Linked DNA regions of Homo sapiens: region 1 is linked to region 2. The links come from fine-mapping of genetic effects on gene expression. A gene starts in region 2. The other region holds a variant in brackets. All regions are shown on one strand. Distances are from middle to middle. Region 1 overlaps KIF5A (kinesin family member 5A). Region 2 holds the start of DCTN2 (dynactin subunit 2).

Region 1 (5,375 bases), 36 kb before region 2:
GCCGCCCAGTATGGAACAAGAAAGAAATCCAGCTCATCACTTCAACTTGAGGGCACTGTGACAAAAAAAAAAGGCTCAGAAATTTCCCAGCCTATTCACCCCCAAACCCAAGGAATCAATCATTTTGACTACACCTGCCTGTAACCATCTCCATGGACAGATGAGCAGCCATTGACAGGCTGCTGGGAGCAGTCTGCCTCCTCCATTTTTCAAAATATTTTAAATCAGCTCTGGGTTCTGGTCATGAGCTCTGGGGCAGGGAATATCAAAAGGAGCTTGAAGAAAAAGGGAAATGGTCCCTTGAGCAACCCATTTCTCAGTCCAGGGGAAAACAGGAAGAGGGAGGCAAAAGGCAGACTTTGTAGGGCAGAAGTAACACCTGAATCCTTTGATTAAGGTGAGGGGTGTATGAAGAAAATTATATGTCTCAATTAGCAGCCCTTCCATTTTACCTTCCCCTGTGCTATATGTGAAAGAGGAGGGAGGAAGAGTCTATTTCTCTGTCTCATGATGCTAAGACATTCTTCTGCTTAAGGCTTTGTGTGTGTGCATGCGTGTGTGCATGTTTGTGTGCGTGCGTGCGTGTGTGTATGAAGGGTCACAACCCTCTAGCTCCCATTTTTCCTTTTGTCATCTCTGTGACCTCTACTCAGTGACTAACACCACTCAGTGTGAGACGAGTAGATGAGAAAGAAGAAACATTCACCCTCCTCCCTATTGCCCCAAATAAGGAAGGTAGACTATGCTTTGAAATTGCTAAATACATCAGTAGATACTTGAGAATAAGACAGAAGAGAGACATAGCAGCAGCTTTTGATATATAGATACAGAGTACAAAGAGATACAGAGTAAGTAAGAGAAGACATCAAACATAGTACAGTCCAACAACAGGGGTTGGGGAGGGAGTTAGTATCAGAGACCACAGGTTTGCAGCATGCTGAGAAGAGGCCTCAGTCCCTCTTAGAAACTGGGAAAGAAAGAGAAAGAGGGTGTGAGGGCCCAGCTTGTAGCTCAGTCACAGAACAGGAACAGGTGGCATCTGCACACACTTTGGTTTACTGTCCTGTTCCTTTAATACCAACAAGCAGACCCCCCTACCACCGCCCCCCGTGACCCAGGCTTGCACCTCCACCCCTAGGTCTCCCCAACTCCTCTTCTGCATTCCTACTTCTCTGCTTCTCAGACTTTTCTGCCTGTGTGTGCCTGGTTTACTATTCTGGGAAACCCCTGGAGAGGGCTCAGCTTAGATGCAGCCCAGTAAGAGACTGGCCATGTTCTCTGTGCCACTTCTGGGCCCTAAAGCAACCTTGGTGAGAAACCCAGTGACACACAAGAACAAAGAAGGTTCCTGTGCTGCTAGAGGAGAGCACCTGGGGACAGAGGAGGAAAAAGAGGGGCTTTGCCACCTCCACTGAGCAAGATGGGAGGGGAGCGCTGACTGATTTCGTGGGGCGTTTCCTAAAGCTTACTGGTGGCATATACAGATGGGAAGAGGATGGGACACAGGTGCAGGCGTGAAGCAAACATCGCCTTAACTGGAGATGTCTTAGTTCCAAAAACACCTATCCATCCAAAATTATTTCAGGGTGGAGGAAGAGGTGGGGTTGAGATGGCCCCCTAGGGTCTCCTGATAGATCTGCAGTCTACCACCCCTGTGGTTCTAATCTACAGCGGCCAAGCTCACTTCTTTGGACATGTGACAGTGACCCCTAGTGGCAAAAAGACAGTACTGTGGTTACCACTGTAGCCTAACGGAAAGCAAAAGGGGGCACGGGAGGTCAACGTCCAGATTACATGGGGCAGCACAGGTGTAGCCCCCAACAGGGGAAAGCAGGAGTTGAGGGGTAACTACATAATTAAAGTTTTGAGGTGATAAAAAAAAAAAGAAGCAGCAGCAGGAAAACCAAAGAGGCTGTCAGCAAGAAGGGAAGCAACCTGAGGCTGGTCCGAGGAAGCAGCCTGACGCTACCTGAAAGTGCAGGTATGCAGCCGTGGGTGTGGGAGATTAGCTGGCTGCTGTCTCTTGGTGGAGAGGGAAAAGCTTGGCCTGGTCCTCAGCCTCATAGCCACACGGCAGGTCACTCCTGGAGGAAGAGACCCACCATGATCAGCTCCATAGAAATTAAAGTATTCCTGTC[A/G]TCATGGTTACTCTGCTCTGAGAGTGTCCCTGTGAGATCACAAACGGCAGGGACTATTTGTGTTTTACAGGAATACAGGGAAACTCAAGGCCAGAGGGATGTAAATGACTTGTCCAATGTCACAAGGCTTCCAAAGGTAGGAGAGAAACCCAGTCGTCAGATGCCCACGTTGTTTTCGTCCAGACCTTATCACTGGAATAGGGAGAAGCCACAGATGGGATTGGAGGAGGGGAGATATTCTGCACTGAGGCAGGGGAATGACTGGATCTCCTGGACAACACAGTGATGAAAAGAATGAGTCTCACTCCCTCCCCCTTCCCCAAAGGCTCCAGGAACCTCCAAGTGGGGCACAAGGGAAATTTAATCATTTCTTCTGGTCCCACCCAGAGAACCCAGGGGTAGTGGGGACTGTTGTACCTATTGTCATTGATATCTGTGGCATTTCCTGAAGAGATCATCATTGAGAACACAGGATTAGAAGAAGAAAAAAGGAGATTGGGTGTTAGAAACAGTTTGCGCAAACCCTCTCCCATCTTAATCCCTTAGAGAAAAAGATAAGCTGTGACACTTTCTCCTTAGTTATCCCAAGCTACATCATTATTTTGTTCGAGAAAAAGTTTCTGCAGCCCCTCACCAAGGAGAGGAAAAGGGAACTGGAAGGCAAGGGCTGGGATTGGCGTGGTAATAGGAGGAATCCACTCCCAGGCAGCCTGAGACCTAAAGGGCTGGGCAGTGCTCAGGCTGTAGGTACAGGGTCACTTTTTTCTTCATATGTGTTATTATTATTATTTTAGAGATGGGGCTTTACTATGCTGCCCAGGCTGAGTGCAGTGGCTATTCACAGGTGTATTCACAGTGCACTTCAGCCTTAAGCTCCTGAGCTCAAGCAATCCTCCTATCTCAACCTCCCAAGTAGCTAGGACTACAGGTGCATGCCACCACACCTGGCTATATGTATTTTTTTTTTTATTTGAAGCCTTGGCACACCAGAAAGGTTCAGTCAGTGTTTTTTGTACACTAAGGTCACTTACTTTTATGCCTCTCAACTTGCCCTGAGGACCCCAAAGGTGGGATTACCCATCTTTTTCACTCACCATTGTCCATGTTGGCCTTCTGGTAGGAAGCCAAGGGGCCGCCAGAAGATGTGGCTCCACTGCTGGTACAGGAGTTTGCAAAGCTGGATGGAGCAGAGGAAAGAGGCAGCCTCTGACACCCACCCTCCACTAGTCTGAGGACCACTAATCCACACTCATCCTCAGTGATAGAGCTGCTCAGCCCTCCCCATCCCCAGAGAGCAGAGGAAAACAAACATGGCCACAGGCTGGGAGGGCAGACACCTACCTTCTAATCATAGGCATGAAGTTGAGAAAGGGTTTAGGAAAATAATTAAGCCACAACCAATAACTGCCCCCACCCTATGCCTTCTAGGGTCCAGGGAGCTTTGGGTGGGACTCCAACCCACACGTGTGGTCACTCACTACATATCTGAGGTGGAGCTGGGTGTGGCCTGCAGGTAGAGATTCTGGTAGTTCTGGAAGAGGCTGTTGGTGTAACTGATGCACTCAGGGCTCCGGGTGCCATAGGGGTTGGTGGGTGAGGATGCTGGGTAGTGGCCAGGCCGGACGGGTTTGGCTGCAATAAAGAAAGAAAACAACCATGAGGAGGCTATGACCCTGCATTTGCCCTGGTCCCTGAGGTCATTTAGCTGGGGTTGAACTGAGTTGCTTGTAACATAATCACTTTTTTACTTTTTGGGGGGAAGTGGGATGAGGCTAGGGGTAGGTAAGAAGCAATAATCTAGTTGCTTGGCAATTAGCAATTTGCTAAATTTGCTTCAGGAGATACTCCCACCTTGCCTGCTAACACCTACTCACCAATCTGGGCAGAATGGCCCCGTTTGCCCGAGCTCTTGTAGCGAACGGCCTCCTTGATGCGGTCCACCTCCTGCTGGTACCGGCGCTTGTCCTTCATGGCGCCCTCCTTGGCCTCCTTCAGTGCACCCTCCAGGGCCTTAACTCTCTCAGCCGTAGCCCTAAGTCGTTTTTCCAATTTAGGAAGCTCACAACGCAGATCTGCATTGTCACGTACCAGCTATGGGGCAAGCCAAAGGGAAGAAGTGGAAAGGAAGGCAAGTGACCCAAGACGGTCACCCAGAGGAGCGTAGGGGACAGGGGTGAGGAGAGAGAATAAAGAAAAATCAGGAGTCAGAGAAGATGGAGACCATGTCATTTCCTCAAAAGGCCTCATTGCCTTTATGTAATGGACTGTTCTGTCCAGCTCATTCCTTCTCCCAGAGCGAAGGGTGGGTGGTCAGGCATTTAAAAGTTATATAATTTTCTAGGCAGTAAAACCTGCCATCTCCACTGCAGCCCAGAACTCTTGTGAGAGCGCCTTGTCCTGTCTCCATCTGGTTTCCCCCACATCTCCCAGCATGTGCCAGATCAATAGCCCCAGGGCGGCCATGGGGATGAGGGACCCGCTTCCCCAGAGAGGGCTTTGTGGGCATGCAAAGGGTGGGGCAGCAAGGGCACAGTAGCAGTTTGGTGGCTGTGGCATTGAGGAGAATCTGTGCATGGCAGGTGCAGTGCAGAGCAGGAGCAGAAGCTGGAATTCAGGAGCCCCTGACATACACATATAGACAGGCAGAGCCCGCCCCGTAGGAAGGAAAGAAAATGTTTGAGGTCTCACAAACATTTGCACTCATTACCTTCACATTCAAGGACTTCCTGGGTTATCCCTCCCCCAGTGAAATTAAGCTAGAGCATGGGAGCAACCACCCTGCAGCCCGAAAAGACTTCCTGATCTTTTTACAGGTTCCACACAATGACTGGGGGCACTATAGGTTGCAAAAGGAGCAGGGCCTTGGAAGACAGCGGGTAAATCAGCATAGCGGGGAACACTGGGGGCTCAAGGGGACAAGCTAGAAACCCTTCCATGCAGTTTCCATTTGGACAATTTATGGAGTATAAGCAATGTTTTGCTGTGACAATACTTTAGCTTAATTGATATAGGGCTATAGTCCTGGCTGTTAAGATTCTCTTAACTGAGAAGTTTTTATCTCCTTTTCCTTTTTACTCTTGTGTCTGCTGAGGTAGGAAATTGTAGTGAGTCCTCTATTTATCCTATAGGTGAGTCATTTTTGTTTTTTTGGGACTTTGAACAGAGGCAGAGGCTTCAGTGACGATAAAGGAAACAGTGTGTGGTTGTGTTTTTTCATGGAAATTTTTCTGGGGCTTG
Region 2 (5,375 bases):
CAGTAACCATTGGAGGATAGAGTCCCAATACTTCAGCCCCCTTCCCTGGCCAAAAAAAAAAAGGTGTGGGGGAAGAAAAACGAAAGAAATGCCAAGCCCAGAGATTCCTTGTCCTTCCTTCCTTTGGGTCAGACTCCTGCTGCAGCCCCTGGAAAGAACCACCAAGAAGCTGGCCAAATTGATTTTTCTCCATGTCACAGGCCTCTGCTGGCCAACAGAGAGTTGGACTGCAGGAGTTGAGGTTCTAGGCAAAGAGGAAGGGCAGGGTGGATGGGAGAAGGAGGAGGAAAGGAAAGTTCTGCTCAGCAACTGTCTGGTGAGTGGTTAAGGTCACTTAAGACACTATGGGACAAAAGTAAGAGGCTGATAGCCTGGCCAGACAAGACCTAACTATTCAGAACTCAGGGGGTTTCCCACATTGGGGCTACACCTCTAACCTACCTTGAATCTTAAGGGAACTGAAAGAAAAGAGTCCAACATAAGGAATGGGACAGGAAAGCTGTAGGACTATGGAGAAAGGGATAGAGGCTTGGGGAGGAGCCAGGAGAAAGAAAGACAACGAGTTCCGAACTCAGGAACTCTCTAGTCACTTGGTTTGGCACAATTTCTAAGTGTTGCAGCATCCTGCAAGCTCAGGAAACATCCTGGGAAACATCCCATCCTTGGGTCCCCAGGGGCTCCAAGGTGGCATCTTTAGTAAAGGGGTTTCAAAATGCCAGTCCATGGAGGGTCACTGGTCAGAGACAAAAGTTCACTGAGTATGCCCTCACCTCCAAAAGAACAATGGTGAGTTTTTTTTTAATATAAAGATGGATTTGATAAGTTTCAAAGGACTATCTTTTATTCTGAGTGTGTCCTTCTTGCTTTTCTACCAAGTAATGATGGTGACAGTAAATAATAGGTTTTCTATTTGTAATATACTTACTTGATAAAATAAAAAGGCAAATCTTCAAGGTTTGTAGTTGTTTTAATTTTATTGAACGATGAAATTTAAAAGTCTGAGAACGGAAGGTAAGGTTGGTGAATAGGTACAAAAAATTAGAAAGTATAATAAGACCTACTATTTGATGGCACAATAGGGTGACTATAGTCAAGAATAACTCAACTGTACATTTTAAAATAACTTAAAGAGTAATTGGATTATTTGTAACTTAAAGGATAAATGCTTGAGAGGATGGATACCCTCTTCTCCATGATGTGCTTATTTCACATTGCATGCCTGTATCAAAATATCTCATGTGTCCCATAAATACATACACCTACTGTGTACCCACAAAATTGAAAAAATTGAAAAATAAATAAAAGTCTGAGAACTATTAACGAAGTAGTTAAGAGCCCAGAGAGTGTTCAGACAGACATGGAGACACCACTTACCTACTTATGAACTTCAGATAGAATTGCCAGATTTGAAAAACAAAAAACAAAAACAGGATGCCCAGTTAAATGTGAATTTCAGATACTTAATTTTTGGGGGGTTAGTATACCCACACACCACACACCACACACACACACCTACTTATTATCTGAAATTCAAATTATCTGAAAGCCCTTACTTGAGAAGATTGCCTAACTTTTTCATTCCTAACATACACTACGCGTTTACTAAATTTTACTTCTTGTTTTTATTTTGTTTTTATAATACACAGTATCAAGCAAACTTCTTGTTTTTGAAACCCCGGCTGTGTCACAGTATGACTACCTGTATCATTTAATCTAGTCATTTTATTCCTGGGAGCCCCAAACAGGAATTATAAATGTTCTTTCACTGACTTGCTGTAAAAGTGAGAGAAAAGGCTGTATGAAATAGCTCCCCAAGGTTCGTTATTGTCGCTCCCCGCCCAAGCTCCAGTACACCAAAACTACACATCCCACAATCCTAGGCGGCGTCCCCTGGCCATTACCTCATTCCCTGGCCTCGTTCTCCCCAATCCCGGCCTCTCCAGGGGTGTGGCAGCAGGGCTGTTCTCGCGACTTTTGCTTTACCCTTCTGCTGTGCTACTGCTGTCGCGAGACTTCCTGCTCATCTGCCGCTCCCTTTGCCGCCGCCTTAGCCCGGGACCCGAACCCAGCCTCTCCCCTACCCGAACACCGGCCCCGGCTCCACCGAGGCCCGGGTCCCCCAGCCCGTCTCGCCGCCGCCATGGCGGACCCTAAATACGCCGACCTTCCCGGCATTGTGAGTACAGGACCGGCCCCGGCTCCCCAGGACCGCGCCCCCGACCTCCCAAGGACCCCCAGCAGAAACCAGCCCGCGACCCCTCCCGCCTGCAGCCCATCCTCCGCCCAAGGGCTCCCGCCGCTCGTTCTCCGATCGGCCTCAGCACCCCCCGAACTCTTCTGACCCGACTGGGCCGGGCCGCCGGACGGCGCACCAGGCCCCCTTTCCGGCAGTCGCCGGTAGCTCGGCCCAGAAATCGACTCCGGGTACTGACCTCTTGTGCCTGAGTTTTTCCACCATCCGTGTCAACGCCTCCCATGTCCCCCCCAAATCTCTCCATAAGACCCCATCGCTACCCCAGACACACACACCAGACCACTTAACGATGGCCTTCATCCTGCCAAGGAAGAGGTTCTGCCATCTGGCAGAACCCTCTTGTGCCAGATGGGGAGCTCTATCCTTGAGGGAACCTATGCCCTCCCCCAGCCCCCACTCCCATGACAATCCTGGCGTGTACCTTCCTTTTGTGCTGCCCTGCCTGCTTCTCAAGGTGAGGGTTGGGACACAGGACCTTGAGTACTAAGGTCCTGAGTCACTCTCAATCCTTGTGCCAGGGTGGTGGTGTACGGGGCCTAATTGGAGGATAGCCTTCACCTTCTTTGGCAATAGTGATTGCCAAGGACCTGCCCGCCTCTAGATTTAGGGTAACATCGTTGCTATCACTTACACTCACCGTTTACTGTCAGGTCCCAATTGTTTCCGCTGTCATCCCTACCCCTTGAGACATGGGAACTGACATACTGTTGACTCACGGGGCAGGTGGAGGAGAAAGGACAGAACCCTGACATCACACCCCGCCTTCTCTGTTAGCTTATTCAAATGGAGTGGGGGAAGGGGTGTTGTTGGATGCTGGGTAGTGAGGTTGGGTGGTCACTGCTTCTACCTGCAGGCCAGGAATGAGCCAGATGTTTATGAAACTAGCGACCTACCTGAGGATGATCAAGCGGAGTTCGATGCGGTAAGAATGTGTGCTGCCACAGACTCCTCCGGACTCTGACCTTTCTCCCCTAGACAGGTCCTTCCCTTTCTCGGGGGAGCTACAGCAATAAGCGGGTATGCCAACCCCAGCCTGGGTGGTATATAGGTTGCAGGGCTTGCAAAGACCTTGCTGGGCTTGCAGCCACCAATGAGCAATGGCAGGAGGGAGAGTCAAGTCAGCGGAATTACAGCTAACAACATCTGTTTGCAAAGCCCTGATTCTTGGGCCTTTTAAATAAAATTGAAATATCTCAAAACAGGTTTGGAGCTAGTGACTTAGGCCCCTGGGTTCTAACCCATGGAAATGAATCATGAAGCCTGGGCACTTGTAATAAACTGCTACCAAGAACTAGACTTTGAAATATGGAGAAATACTTTTTCCATATGAATATCCAGTATCCATTGGGCAAGGAATTAAGAAAGTGATTCCAAGATTTTAGAGCAAAACAAATTTGAGGAAGAATGTAAATATTTCACATCAGCGGATGTGAGACTGTGGTTGCATTTTTAGATCCGAGAATTCTGAGGATGGAGTAATTAGGTACGGATACATTTTAACTGTGAGGGGAAACATTTAGTATGGTTTATTGAGTGTGTTCATTCTGTGGTTTTTTTTGTGCAATGCAGAGGAAGAAATGTCTCTGCCCCCAATGAGCCCCAGACTAATGGGGAATTAGGATACATATAGGAAACATATAGAAGGAAAAAAAAATTGAGTGAATGGAAATCAACATAGTAAAAACTCTGTTTAAGTGCCAAGAGGTGTGTTTATAGGATGTGTTTTAGGTTCTATTATTTCTGAAGACAGCTGGGCTGGGATCACATTGATGATGTGAGTTCTCAGTAAAGATGTGTCCAAGAGTCATTGCAATATGCAGGCTCAGTATGCTTGTCTGTAAGTCCTGTGGCTATGTCTGTGGGGCTGGTTAATTCTGGGGAATGCTGACTGCTGGCTTACAATGTGTGGCTTGGCGTACTCACTTATTTCTTATTTGACTCCCCCATGTGGAAGTGGTTCTTACATTGTGGGAAACACCTTCTCTGTCCCTTCTCCCAGTGGTGTGTTCCTTGTGGCTTCTGTATTTGCTGGCATGCCAATCTATCCCCTAAGCTTGAGTATCTTGGAGATAATGCAGATGATGTTGTTGCTCAAGGACCTGGGTGTGCACCTGTCACTCCAAGAGGCATCTTATAGGAAGCTGCCTCTGTCCTCACAGAATAGGAGTGTATACAATCGGTTCTCTGTATTTATGGGTTCCAAACCCATGGATTCAACCAATCACAAATGGAAAATATTTTTTAAAAATAAAAAATAGGCCCAGTGTGGTGATTCATGCCTGTAATCCCAGCACTTTGGGAGGCTGAGGCAGGTGGATCATTTGAGGCCAGGAGTTTGAGACCCCGTCTCTACTAAAAAATATAAAAATTAGCAAGGCGTGGTGGCGAGCGCTTATAGTCCCAGCTACTGTGGAGGCTGAGGCAGGAGAATTGCTTGAACCTGGGAGGTGGAGGTTGCAGTGAGCCGAGATTGCGCCACTGCACCCCAGCCTGGGTGACAGAGCAAGACTCCATCTCAAAAAAAAAAAAACCAGTACAACAATAAAAAAAAAAACAAAATTTAAAAATACAATATAACAACTATTTACATAGCATTTACATTGTACTAGGTATTTTAAGTAATCTAGAGATGATTCAAAGTATACAGGAGGGTGTAGGTAGGTTATATGCAGTTACTATGCCAATTTATATAGAAGATGGGAACATATGCAGATTTTGGTATCAAGGGAGGTCCTGGAACCAGTCTCCCACAGTTGCCAAGAGACAGCTGTATGCTGAGAACTTTACTGCACTACCACAGTTCAGACTGTTCAACTTAGGCCTAGGCTTCTGCCCTTCATGGTGAGATAATGAATAGAACTCAGTCCTTTTGTCGCTGTGATACAAACAGGTAGTTTCACAGTAATCCTCTTTCTAAACAAAAAAATACATATTGTCATTCCCTTTTGAAGATACTGGGATATCTCTTAATAAAAAGGAGATGACACCCATTCCAGGTGTGGAAGAACCTGACTGTGCAGCTCTGATTGGCTGTTTCTCCCCCAGAGCCTGAACAGCCTATTTTAGTAGCATCTAGTGGGGTGGCTGATGAGGAGAGGATACTGTGAGTGTTCATTTCCTG

What was found. PIP is the estimated chance that this variant, and not a neighbour inherited with it, causes the effect.
Region 1: its variant is fine-mapped to the expression of DCTN2 in whole blood (INTERVAL, PIP 0.95).

The regions. Positions count from the first base shown.
Region 1 is chr12:57,579,810-57,585,184 of GRCh38, reverse strand. It overlaps KIF5A (kinesin family member 5A), which reads right to left. Exons shown (of 29, transcript NM_004984.4): 24 at 4,013-4,229; 25 at 3,617-3,770; 26 at 3,233-3,315; 27 at 2,556-2,583; 28 at 1,970-2,084; 29 at 1-967. The coding sequence ends at 2,006. Among named protein-coding and RNA genes, the nearest start is that of PIP4K2C, 8.7 kb to the left of the region's middle. The variant A/G (reference allele first, on the strand shown) is at 2,139.
Region 2 is chr12:57,543,829-57,549,203 of GRCh38, reverse strand. DCTN2 (dynactin subunit 2) reads left to right here and starts at 2,012. Exons shown (of 14, transcript NM_001261413.2): 1 at 2,012-2,176; 2 at 3,108-3,176. The coding sequence starts at 2,141. RefSeq lists an enhancer at 1,744-1,883.